Homo sapiens: one gene and its partner. The protein of the gene in region 1 purifies or fractionates together with the protein of each later gene. This does not show direct contact. Each region holds a gene or a part of one and is shown on either strand. Other genes may lie near its edges.

Region 1 (7,042 bases):
TTAAGTCTGATCTCATTCACTTGTTTGTATAAAGACAAATACCAAACATGGCAGACCACATGCTAAAAAAAATCTTTCTCAGGAACAATTTGGGCTGTGAATGGATCACATAAGGCAAAAACCAGCCAAGTTAGGAGTTCATGACTGCCTTGGCAGGCTCCTCTGGCTGCTCGTGTTTCATTACCACCATCCTATAATTATGCCTCAACCACTGTCCTTTATGCACACTGGCCATGCCCATCACTGCCATCTCTCCTGGGCCACATGACGATACTGGCCATGAACATGAGATGCGACAGGCTGAAGGTTAGTGCTCATATTGTTGTGCCTTATCTTTACTTTTTTCATTAGTTGCAGAGGTTCTTTCCATTATAATCCAACTGTAAAAATCACATCTATTTTAAGTTTTTCCAGAAACCTACAGAAAATAAGATACATGTCATAATTCTATTTCTAAATTTAAAAAAGGCAGTGTCCTGTCTGGCCATTATAGGAAATCTGAAATTATTATAAGAAATAAGAATTCTGGCCATTATTAGAAATCAATATCCTGTCTGGCCAAATAAGAAATCTGAACTCTGTGATTCCAAGCTGACACTTTTGTGGGATTTTTTTTCTTTTTTTTTTTTGAGACAGAATCTTGTTCTGTCGCCCAGGCTGGAGGGCAGTGGAGCAATCTCGGCTCACTGCAAACTCCACCTCCCGGGTTCAAGCGATTCTCCTGCCTCAGCTTCCCAAGTAGCTGGAACTACTGGTGTGCACCACCACGCCCAGCTAAGTTTTGTGTTTTTTAGTAGAGACGGGGTTTCGCTATATGTTGGCCAGGCTGGTCTCGAACTCCTGACCTCAGGTGATCTGTCCACCTTGTGCCCGAAAAGTGCTGGGATTACAGGCGTGAGCCACCACGCCTGGCTGAGACTTTTTTTAAGCCACAGAAATCACACAATTCAAAATTGCTATTTGACCCAATACAAGAAATATAAATTAGTTAACAATAAAAAGCACTTGTTAATCTTGCCCAAGGCTGTCAGGACATCTCTGGAATGATATCTGGACCAATGTTGCATTTATAATATGATTTTCATCTTTTCCTCAAGAAACATGAGTTAAGAAAACTGCAGTAGCAAGACTAAGGTAGACGTACACCGCTTAGTTTAAAAGTGTTCATTTCAGCCAATCAATTGGTTATTTGTGGACAATTCTTGAAAACTAGTATAATATATATTATATATACATATATAATATTTATTACATATATTATATATGTATATATAATATATATAATTTTTTTAACTGATAGATTACTGTGGAGTCAGAGATATAGCTTAAAGTTCTACTTTTTGCTGAAGAATAAGAGTTGGAAGTCAACCTCTGATCCAGCCATAATATTGTGCCAGTCTTTAGGATTTTGGTTTAAACAGCTGCATTGTATACTTCAGAGGATTTTTTTTTTAATTTCTCCATTAATCTTAGCATTTGGCACAATTTACTAAAACAGAACATGTGTGTATCCCTGACCCAGTAATTTCACTCCTAGGTATATATATACCCAACAGAAACACCTACTAGAATGTTCACAGCAGCACTGTCCATGAAAGCCCCAAACCGGAAACTATCCAAATACCATTAGCAACATAACTGACACATTTGGTACATACATACAATGGGATGCTATATAGCAATGAAAAAAATAAGCAAATTAGATACAACAGTAAGAGAAATCTCGCAAATATAACCTTGAGCACAAGAAGCCCCTGGTGAGAGAATATCCACTACATGATTCCATTTGTAAAAATTCAAAAATAGGCAAAGCTGATTGATCTGTGTATAAGCAGTCAGGATATGGAGGAAGAATACTAAGTAACTAGAGACTCTCCTTGAGTACTGATAATTCTGTTTCTTTCTTTTTTTCCCTTTTTTAAATAATAAGATTTTGAATCAGGCAGGCTTCTGAGCCATAGTAGGCTCAGAGACTCCAATTTTCTGTTTCTTAATTTGGTGCAGATTACATGGGTATGTCTCATCAAGCTATACACTTATGGTTTGTACACTTCTCAGTTTATCTGTTATACTTTACTAGTTTTTTTTAAAATGCACCCTCAGCCACTGTACCCCCCAAAAGTGACTGTTTCATGTATGTGTATTGCCACTTGACAATACGGCAAACTTAAAACAATTTAAGTAACTTCATTAAGGTTGAAAGTGTTTCACGTATGCTGGAAACAAGAGCAAAAAGATATTAAATGAAAAAATTGGGGGTTGTTTTTGAATTTTATAACAGAACAAACATATCAATCTACAAGGTCAGAAATCCGAAGTAAAAAATTAGAAAGGAGGCGGCTTCTGTATCAATAGTGGATCTTGCTCTGCAGAAGGACAAAGGGAGGGACAGGACCAGACAAAAGAAGGGAGAATAAAGACCCAAGGCGTGAGAATTTCGAGTCAGCCCATGGCGGATTTGAAATCAACAAAGGGGCAGCTTAGAAATGGACACTGGAGTGACACAAAGATGGTGTGATTGAGTACCGGGCACTACTAACATGTGGGAGACACACATTCACAGGGAGTCCAGGCAGCAACAGACCTCAACCCCTTTGCCAAACCAATGAAAGTGGACAGATGTTAGGTAGTAGGGAGTGACACGTGCACAATTCAGAATGCAGAAGTTCTCCTTTCTTTCCAAAAGAATCTAGTCATTCACAAAAACTCAATCTTACTTGGGCCAGATGATTTTTTTTTTGAGATGGAGTCTGGCTCTGTCACCCAGGCTGGAGTGCAGTGCCGCGATCTGGGCTCACTGCAGCCTCTGCCTCCTGGGTTCAAGCGATTCTTCTACCTCAGCCTCCTGAGTAGCTGGGACTACAGGCACCTGCCACCACGCCCAGCTAAATTTTTGTATTTTTAGTAGAGACGGGGTTTCACCATATTGACCAGGCTGGTCTCGAACTCCTGACTTTATGACCCACCCGCCTCAGGCTCCCAAAGTGCTGGGATTTCAGGCATGAGCCACCGCGCCCAGCATGGGCCAGATGATTTCTAATTTAAAAGGGAGGCCAGGCGCAGTGGCTCACGCCTGTGATCCCAGCACTTTGGGAAGCTGAGGCGGGCGGATCACCTGAGGCCAAGAGTTCCAGACCAGCCTGGCCAACATGGTGAAACCCCGTCTCTACTAAAAATACAAAAATTAGCTGGGTGTGGTGGTGCATGCCTGTAATTCCAGCTACTCGGGAAGCTGAGGCAGGAGAATTGCTTGAACCGGGAGGCAGAGGTTGCAGTGAGCAGAGATCGCACCACTGAACTCCAGCATGGGCGACAGAGTAAGACTCCATCTCAAAAAGAAAGGAAAAGAAAAAGAAAAAGAAAAAGAAAAAAAATTTAAATGGGGAGCCAGAGGTCTCAGTAGCTGGAAAATCCTGTAAAATATCACCTAAAACCATTCAGTCATTCTTTCAATATTATCTGTTGAATGGTTACTCTGAGCAATATTCTGGGCTAGAAGCCACCTGGACGAGAAAAGAGGTCCAAATTCTATTTTAAACAAGGTAAGGTGCAGCATTTTGTAATGGGATAGCCTATTGCTAAATTATTTAGTTAACTGTGAATCTCACACCCAACTCATAAGGTTCTCAGCTTGAGGTACTGTTTAAAGGCATGGATCCTTTTATGGTTAGGGTTTCTTTCTTTTTTTGTTGTTGTGGTTTTTTGTTTTTTTGAAACAGTCTTACTCTGTCACCCAGGCTACAGTGCAATGGTGTGATCTTGGCTCACTGCAACCTCCACCTTCCCAGTTCAAGTGATTCTTGTGCTTCAGCCTCCTGAGTAGCTGGGGCTACAGGTATATGCCACCATGCCTGGCTAATTTTTGTATTTTTAGTAGAGACAGGGTTTCGCCATATTGACCAGGCTGGTCTCGAACTCCTGACCTCAAGTGATCTTCCTGCCTCGACCTCCCAAAATGCTGGGATTACAGGTGTGAGCTACTGTGCCTGGCCTAGTTAGTTCTTTGTGTCAACTTTGCTAGGCTATAGTACCATTATCCAATAAAAGATTCATCTAAATGTTGCTGTGAAGGTATTTTGTAGATGTGGTTAACATCTATAATCAGTTGACTTTATTTTTTTTTTAATTTTTGAGAGAGTCTTGCTCTGTTGCTCAGGCTGAAGTGCAGTGGTGTAATCACAGCTCACTGCAGCCTTGACCTCCAAGGCCCAAGCAATCCTCTGACATCACCCTCTCAAGTAGCTGGGACCACAGGCATGTGCCACCCCACCTGGCTAATTTTTTTTAACTTTTGTAGAGATGGAGTTTCCCTATGTTTCCCAGGCTGGGTGGTTGACTTTAAGGAAAGGAGATTTTTCCTTGATAATGTGGGTGGGCCTCATATGATTAGTTAAAAGGCCTTAAGAGAAAAACTGAGTTTTCCCTGAGAAAGAAGAAATTCTAAGTAAAGAGTGCACCATGAGCTCCTGCCTAGTTTCCGGTCTGCCAGCCTTCCCTACAGATATGGGACTTGCCAGCCTCTCCAATTGCATAAACCAATCCTATTGGTTTTGTTTTTCTGGAGAACTGATTTTCTGTTTTTCTGGAGAACTCCAGTTATCCTGGAGAACTGATACAGATGGTAATCAAACCCCTTGAGTTCAAGGCCTGGCTCTGCCATGTCCCCATCTGGGTGTCCTTTTTACTTTTGTTGCCTCATTTGTAAAATGAGGATAATAACAGTAACCTAATGCATAGTAATCAGAACCACCCCTGGCACAGAGTGCTTTGAAAGTGTTTGTGAAATAAATAACTGTGGTTCCAAGTTGCACAAAATTCTGTATTTCTTAGCTGGAAAACCTGAGTTTTCTTTATTCCCAATAATTTGCCATCAACCAAACATGATGACTCTTCCCCACACCAAGAATTACATAGCCTTGGGACAACAGCTCCTCACCAGCCACGCCAGCCTAACCCCACTCAAAGGAATGATGCAGCAAAGCTGAGGTCACAGCACTTCTGGAACACTCTTAATTCTCCAAGTTCTCAGCTGCTAAAAACAGCTGAGCTTAAAGAGGCTGCCAGGAAACAGACTCCACAGAGAGCTATTCCTACTATTTGCAAGGGTGGGAGTTTTAGAAAGGAGTCCTAATCATTCCTTGTGTTCCCACTGTTAATCCCTACAGCAACTTGCCATGGCCCCTTGGGATGAAAGATTAAATGGGGAATCAAAGTGTTGTTTTTGTGGACACACATTTTAGAGGGAGAATATGATGCTGCTGCTGATGGTGATGATAACTTTTACTGAGCACTTACAAGATGCCAGATGCTGCTCTCAGTGCTAACCATTAACACATGTAAGCCTCAGAACAACCCCAGATGTAGATACTGTTAAGTTGGTGCAGAAGTCACGGCAGTTTTTGTCATTAAAAGTAATGGCAAAAACAGCAATTACTTCTGCACCAACCTAATACAACCATCCTCATTGCACAGATAAACAGAAAGTGGCCAAGGTGAAATCTGAACCCAGGCTTTCTGGCTCTCCCTCCTGTACACGCTACCGCTGAGCCTGGATTGTGACGAGGGAGGAGGGAGGCGAGGGAACAAGTACAGAACAGGGCTGTGATTGATGGGAGTGCTTGGCAAGCTCGGGTTCAATCAATGGTTAAATCAGCTTATTTTAAATGAAACAAGTTTCAAAGACTGAAGTAGAACAAATCATACACCATGTTCCTCCCTGAATTTCTTTTGTTCAAGTGTATAATTTGTGCCCACTTTTATACATAAATACCAAAGCTCACAAAAGATTCATGTTATGGTATTTCAACCTTTCATCTTCACATAAAAAAAAGCAAGGCAAAGCGATTTTGAAATTATTTCTCATTTATGCACCAGCAGTGCAATGAAATCAAACACCTGCTTATTGGAAAAATGATAAAACACATTTATTCTTATTTGCTCCCATATTACACCAAGTTTTCCCTACAGGACTTCATGTTGACAAAGATATCTTGTTCTACAGGATTCCTGTGAATTAAGTCTTAGAAGACTTTTCTGGAATATGTTTTTATACCTCAGAAAACAAAAAAGATACACAAGATCAGATTCTATCAGAAACTGGTAAATTTTCACACCAGGAAGATAGACTGGGTCTCAGATACTCTTGTCCAACTTCTCTGGCTCTCAATATTTTTCTATGCCCCAAGAAAATGATCTGAACACACAATTCACATTTTTTTTTTTGAGATAGAGTCTCACTCTGTTGCCCAGGCTGGAGTGCAGTGGCACGATCTCAGCTCACTGCAACCTCGGCCTCCCAGGTTCAAGTGATTCTCCACCTCAGCCTCCTCCCAAGTAGCTGGGACTACAGGTGTGCGCCACCACGTCAGGCTAATTTTTTTGTATTTTTAGTAGAGATGGAGTTTCACCATGTTGGCCAGGCTGGTCTCGAACTCCTGACCTCAAGTGATCCTCCTGTCTCAGCCTCCCAAAGTGTTGGGATTACAGGCGTGATCCACTGTGCCTGGCCACAATTTACTTTTACCCCAGAGACCTGCCTATAGTCATGCTGTCCTTTGGCTTATAGTCCCGTGGAGCTAATGCAGGATCATACAGAATCCTGGGTCAGAGAAGCTATTAAGGGGAAATTCTCAGATAGCTATGGCAGGAGAAGAGACGTGGAAGTGCCACAAATGAAGTTTACGCCAAGTCCTGAGACCTGATTTTGGCCAACTGTGTAAACTTGCCTTGCTGTGGAACTCTTTCCAGAGATAGAAGCATTAAGAATAATGCAACAACCCTGCTAATGTTTGCACCTAGAGAGGTTACGCTGACAACAGCCAGGCCTTCACGTCAGGCTGGTCATACCGGCATTCCTTGTCTATGGATTCCCTGCCATGAGGAACAGACTGCAATGGATGTTCACAGAGTGCTTTAAGAAGATTACATCCTTTTAAAAATCCATAAAATTATTACAAAAAAGAAGCCAACAAAACACTCCTTCCTGAAATTGTTCCCTTTGGGTAATAATATGAAAACATGTTTCCCATTGGAGCTCTCTTAC
Region 2 (7,042 bases), about 73 Mb from region 1:
TCCTGATAAAGTTTCTAGTGTTAAAAATACATTTCATTTACATTTATTTTTAATCATTCTTTTCTAATGAATACATTTAAGTCTCTACTCCTCACATTCTAAAGGGTGCTTTAACTGAACTCCAAATTTCATAAAATTCACTTCCCATCTACACTTGATCTTAGCCAAAAGGCCAAGAAACAATCACTTCTCATCTCGACACTGAATGAATCACTGTTTTCTTTGTTGACGTCCACCATTTGGTGATACATTTGTGAGGACAGCACTTCACAATTTAGTCTTTTAAAACACATAAAATAAATGCTTACACATTTTCTAAGGATTAAACCTTAGGCTCAACAAAACTAAAGGAGTTCTCCAAGGATCCCTCAAAACTAAGTGGAAGAGGAAGTGCAAATTATTAAAAGTCTTTGTGTAGAGAAAACATATGGAAGAAAAATGTACATATGTACTTTCCAAAGAATTGATGCAACATTTCAGTAGGTTCACCAATTAACCCCTCTATGGGGAAAAGTCATAAGAGGGCAGCCTAAGACCCAGGCTTTGAGAGGAAAAGAAGAGATGTCTACCACAACTGTGTTTAGGGTCGACCAAAGGCTGTTTTCCAACAGCAACCCAGAGCCACTGTTGTACTAGGAGCTAGGGTTACTGCTATAAAATCTATCAAATGTGTGCAGTGGTGAGAAATGGAGGATTACATGTTATTTTACACAAGTTAAATGAGCCAGGCGTGGTGGCTCACGCCTGTAATCCCAACACTTTGGGAGGCCGAGGTGGGCGGATCACTTGAGGTCAGAAGTTTGAGACCAGCCTGGCCAATATGGCGAGACCCCATCTCTACTAAAAGTAAAAAAATTAGTCAGGTGTGGTGGAACATGCCTGTAATTCCAGCTACTTGGGAGGCTGAGGCATGAGAATTGCTTGAACCTGGGAGGTGGAGGTTGCAGTGAGCCAAGACTGTCCCACTGCACTCTAGTCTGGGTGACAGAGTGAGACCCAGTTTCAAATAAATAAATAAACAAACAAATGGACACATAAAGCAATAAAAACTGGGTAGTGTTCTCTATGAAAAGAAAGAATAAGTGGCAATACTCCTCAAAGCCTATTTATTCAAATTGATGGAAGACTGTAATTACAGAGTCAAGTCCACAAATCTTAGGTGTATATCTCAACCTTTGCATGTGTACCCGTGCCATCATCATGTAGTTCATTCCCAGGGCCTAAGAAGGTTCCCTTGTGCACTATCCCACTCAGTGTGCCCCTCCTAAAGGTAACCACCATTCTCACCTCTGTCACTTTGGATTACTTTATCCTGTTTTCTAACTTCTATAAATGGATATTTATAAATGGAATGTACTTTTTTGTATCTGACTTCTCACTAAATTATCATTCTGTGAGATTCATTCTTATTGTTATATGTCTCAGTAATATTTTTAAATTAATATTTTAAAAAATTTAAAAATTGCTGTGTAATATTACACTGTATGACTTGATTTATTTACTCATTCTACTAGTGATGAACAATTGAACTGTTCCCCAAATGTTTCTGGCATATATAAATAAAGCTGCAATGAACATTCCTGTACACATATTTTGATGGACATAAGCATTCATTTTTATCTAGTATATACTCAAAAGTAGAAATGCCACATCAGAGGTTGTACGAGTTTAGCTCTAGCAGGTGCTAACAAACACATTTCTTAAGTTGTTGTACAAACTTATGCTTCCATCAGTAATTTAAGAGTTCCAATTGCTGCAAATAAAAACTAAGTATTGCCAGTTCTTTTCATTTCAGCTACTCTGGTGGGGATGTACTAACTTACTTTCATTTTAATTTGCATTTGAGCACTAATTATGTTGTGCAGTCTTTTAGATGTTAATTGCTCACTTTGAGATCTAGTTTTTAACTCTTTGCCTATTACGTAGTTTCAGCTAAAGTTGTTTCTATCAATGGTGTTAAGTGAGTACTTACTGTGTTTAGACAGATTGGCTTTTTCTTTTTGAATCATAGGCATTATTTATTCTGCATTAGAGGTCTCAGTAAGATATTTGTATACTCATCCCCTTCTCACTTTTTTGGGGGCCTCTGAGGAACAGAAGTTTTATTGTTATGCTTTTTGTGTCTTATTTAAGAAACAACTGCCTACCCCAAGTCCTTGAAAACAGTCTCCTATGACTCCTAGATACTTAATTGTAATTTTGTTATATGATGTGAGATAGGTATTCAGGTTTATTTTTTTCCATATAAAAAAGCAACTGACTCTTTTTTCCCCATTGAATTTTTCCCCATTGAATTCCATTAGCATCTTTCAGAAAATCAAGAGACTGTATATGTGAGAGTCAGTTTCAATGTGTCTATTTTTAAGCCAATACAATGCTGTCCTAATTACTGCAGCATTATAGTAAGTATTGGAATCTGCCAGTGTAAATCCTCCAGCTTTGTTGTTTTTCTTCACTGTTGCCTTGGCCATTCATCAATTTCCACCAAAAACACTGGCTAGGATTTTCTCTGAGATTGCACTGAATTTACCATTCAATCAGCAGAGAACTGACGTCTTGCCAATACTGAGTTTTGCAATCCATGAAAAAAAATGATATATCCATCCATTTAAGTCTGCTTTAATTTCTCTCAGAAATGTTTCATGTTTTCAGTGTATTGAAATGAAATTTTCAGTGTAGAGGTATTAAACATCTTTCAGCTATTTCAGGATTTATTCCAAGGAATTTGTTTACATAAATTGTTTAAAGTTTTTTTCCTATTTGTTTTTTCTAAGTATATAGTTATGTTTGATAACCTCTATATTGACCTTGTAGTCAGCAATCTGGATAAATCATTTATAATTTCTAATAGTTCCTACATTCTTCTGGAGTTTCTATGTATGCCAGGTCATCTACAAATAATGACAGTTTTTTGTTTTATCTTTTATTTTTCCAATCTTAATACATAGCTATCTAGAATCTCCAGTGAAATGCTGAGTGGCAGTGAGAATAAAACAGTGTTACCTTCTCATTCAATGGGAAAACATTATTTCATCATTAATTATGATAGCTGCTATCTCATTTTTGTAGACTTTTAAAAAATTAAGAAAGTTCCTTTTTATTCGTAGTTTCCTGAGAGATGCATCATATCATTTTTCTTTTTTCTGTAAAGATGGTGAATTACATTGCTTGATTTTCCAGGATTAAACAAAACTTAACCTGCTTGCTACTGATGTGATATTCTTTAAGGGTATCAATGGATTCAGTTTGCTAATATTTTATTTAGGATTTTTGCAACTATATTCGTAAGAAACATTGGGCTGTATTTTTCCTGTCTTGTTACTGATTTTGGCTCCTTTATTTCCTTCTTTGTACTCTCTTTGGATTCTATTTGCTTTTCTTTTCCTAGCATCTTGAAATGGAAGCCTAAAGATCACTGACTATCAGCTGTTCTTTGGTAGTATGGGCATTTAAAACAGTAAGTTTCCCTCTAAGCACTGTTGCATTGCATCCCACAGTGTTTGATATCTGTATTTTCATTATCATTCAGGCAAAATAGAAAATTTTCTGGCCGGGTGCGGTGGCTCACACCTGTAATCCCAGCACTTTGGGAGGCAGAGGCGGGCAGATCACGAGGTCAGAGATCGAGAGCATCCTGGCTAACACAGTGAAACCCTGTCTCTACTAAAAATACAAAAAATTAGCCAGGCGTTGTGGCAGGTGCCTGTAGTCCCAGCTACTGGGGAGGCTGAGGCAGGAGAATGATGTGAACCTGGGAGGCAGAGCTTGCAGCGTGCTGAGATCGTGCCACTGCACTCCAGCCTGGGCAACAGAGCGAGACTCCATCTCAAAAAAAAAAAAAAAAAAAAGAAAGAAAATTTTCTAATAATTATTAGAAATTCTAATAATTCTAATAATTATTAGATAATTAGAAAATTTTCTACTTTATGTTGTGATTCATTTTACCCATCATTATATAAAAATATATTGCTTAATTTCAAAATATCTGAAGATATTCTATTTATGTGCTATTTAATTTTAGTTTAAGTCCACAGTGTTTAAAGAACATATACAGTCTGGTTTCAATCTTTTAATATTTATTACGACTTCTTTCATGGCCTAATCCAGGAGTTGGCAAACACAACCACAGGCCAACTCCAACGCTCTGCCTATGGTCATGGGAGCCTAAATGGCTATGTTTTTGCAGTAGTTGTATGTAGTGACACATATTAATTAAATCTAAGTGCTGAAGTATGTTGTATCTATATCCTTACTTATTTTGCAATCCTTACTTTATCAGTTACTAAAAGTTTTGTTCAACATCTCCAATTATTTCCCCTTTTGCTTTTGTCTCCTTTTGTTCTCTCCATATGTGTGTGTGTACACTTGTTGTTAGGTGCATAAAAATTTAGGCATATTATTACACATTTTTTTTCTGTTGAACTGGCCCATTCATCATAAATGTCTTTATTTCTTCTGATATTCCTTGCCTTAAAGAATACTTTATCTGATAGTCACTTTGCCATATCAGGCTTTTGTTTGTCAGTCTTTGTTGCCATCCTACTAATTTTAACCTTTTTTTGTGTTCTTACACCTAAAGTTTACCTCGTGTGTAAACAGCATGTAGCTATACTTCACTTAATCCAATCTGCCAACATTTAGTTTTTAAATGGGAAATTTAGGTCTTCACATTTAATGTAAATTAAATCCCCATTTTTCTATTTCTTTTCTAGTTGTCCCACTTATTCTCTCCTTCTCTATTCTTCCCTCCCATTTTCTTTTGGATTAATCCAGTATTACTTTACTATTCCACTATAGCTTTTTTTTAATTTTACCTTCCTATTGGTGGTTACCCAAGACAACAGAATATGCAAACCTGATTTAGCAGTCTACTTTAAATTGGTACTGTTACTACCTCCAAAACAGTGTACAAACCATACAACAATTTAACTGTATTTACCCATTCTGGCTTTGTCCTGTTGCCATATCTTTCACTTTTATGTATGTTACAAATACCACAAGACATTATTATTGTTATTTGAAATAGTCAATATTGTCTCATATTGTTACACCTTCTAGCACTCTTTACTCTGTGCATTAGTTTCACGCTTCCATATGGATACGTTTCCTTTAGCCTGAAGACTTTCCCTCAGTATATCATGAAATGCAATTCTGATGGTAATAAAATCCTTTAGCTTGAGTTATTTCTTTGGTTTAAAGCACCTTGATTTTGTGAAAAATATTTTCAGGTAAAGAATTCCAGCTAGGTTTTTTTTTTCTTTCAGCACTTTAAAGACATTATTCCATTAGCTTCTAGCTTCAATAATTTTGTCTAAAAGTCAACTGTCAGTCTTCTATGATTCCTTCGAAGGAAATATGTCCTGTCTTCTCTAAATGCATTTAAATTCTCTTTATCTTTGATTTTCAGGAACTTGACTATAATGTACTTGGATGGGTTTTGTGTGTATGTTTGTGTGTGCACTTGTGTCCACCCTGTTGGGCTTAGTGAACTTTTTGATTCAGTGATTTAAAGTTTCTCATCAGATTTGGAAAATTCTCAATTACTTTTTTCTTTAAATATTTCTCTTGCCCTTCCCCTCTCTCTTCTTCCAGGATTCCAATTTCATCGATGTTGGAACTTTTGTCTGTGTCTCACATAACTCCCATGCTCTCTTTTAGTCTTCTTCTGTGATTCAGTTTGGATATTTTCTGTTAACTTGCTTCTGAGTTTTCTCATTCAGATTTCTGATGTGTGCCATCTGGTTTGTAACAAATCTAATTCTCAACTTCAGACATTGTATTTTGAATTTCCAGGATACCCACTTGGTTCTTTTTTATGGACAATTGTCTTCTGAATGCTTTATATTTTCATACATTTATTTACCTCTTTCAACATACGTACTAGTTATTTTAAATTCCACTCATAACTTATCGGCCAAAAGTAGTCACATGGCTCCACCTAATCACAAGTGGAGCGGGAAGTGCAATCCTACCTTGCCTGGGGAAGGTATAGAGATAGACCAGCACTAATGACTACCACACTTCGCTAAGGTCACATAATAAATAAGCATCAGACATCAGGTGTGGTGGCTCATGTCTATAATCCCAGCACTTTGGGAGGCTGAGGCGGGCAGATCACTTGACTACAGGAGTTGGAGATCAGCCCGGACAACATAGTGAAACACGTCTCTACTAAACACACACACAAAAAAAATACGAGGCATGGTGGTGCATGCCTGTAATCCCAGTTACCTGAGAGGCTGAGGCACGAGAATCACCCTTGAACCCAGGAGGCAGAGGTTGCAGTGACCGATATCATGTCACTGCAGTCCAGCCTGGGTGACAGAGCGAGACCTTGTCTCAAAAAAAAAAAAAGAAAAGGCCAGGCATGGTGGCTTACACCTGATATCCCAGCACTTTGGGAGGCTGAGGCGGGCGGATCACAAGGTCAGGAGATTGAGACCATCCTGGCCAACATGGTGAAACCCTGTCTCTACTAAAAATACAAAAATTAGCTGGGCATGGTAGTGCGTGCCTGTAATCCCAGCTACTTGGGAGGCTGAGGCAGGAGAATTGCTTGAACCAGGGAGTCGGAGGTTGTAGAGCCACGCCACTACACTTCAGCCTGGTGACAGAGCAAGACTCCGTCTTAAAAAAAAAAAAAAAAGTCAGAGCTTGGATCTAAACACAGGTATTTCTGATTCCAAACATCTGTGAACTTTTTTTTTAACTATATCAAAACCTCTTTAAAAGGGCTAATTTATTTTGAAATTAAATGTTTTCATAAAATTTTAAGCTAATCTTTGAATAGAAAAATGAATACATTCTATATAAGTTCTCATATGAATTTACTGAAATAGCCTATTTTAAAAACGTTTAAATTAGGTCTAATATATATACAGAAAAGCTAAAAATATAAGTATATAGTGCAATGAACTATTGCAAAGTGAACACACTTGTGTATCCATCCCCTAAATCATGAAACAGAACATCACCACTACCCCACAGATCCCTCTCATACTTCCTCACAATCACTATTCCCTTTTCATCCCCCCAAGGTAAC

What was found.
Region 2: the proteins of DPYSL5 (region 1) and LONRF2 purify together in Homo sapiens (affinity purification with mass spectrometry; 2 studies listed by BioGRID and IntAct, with this or other methods). This does not show direct contact.

What each region holds. Positions count from the first base shown.
Region 1 is NC_000002.12:26,851,127-26,858,168, reverse strand, and holds part of DPYSL5 (dihydropyrimidinase-related protein 5), read right to left. Parts: intron 1-7,042. UniProt on the Homo sapiens protein: Involved in the negative regulation of dendrite outgrowth.
Region 2 is NC_000002.12:100,312,491-100,319,532, forward strand, and holds part of LONRF2 (LON peptidase N-terminal domain and RING finger protein 2), read right to left. Parts: intron 1-7,042.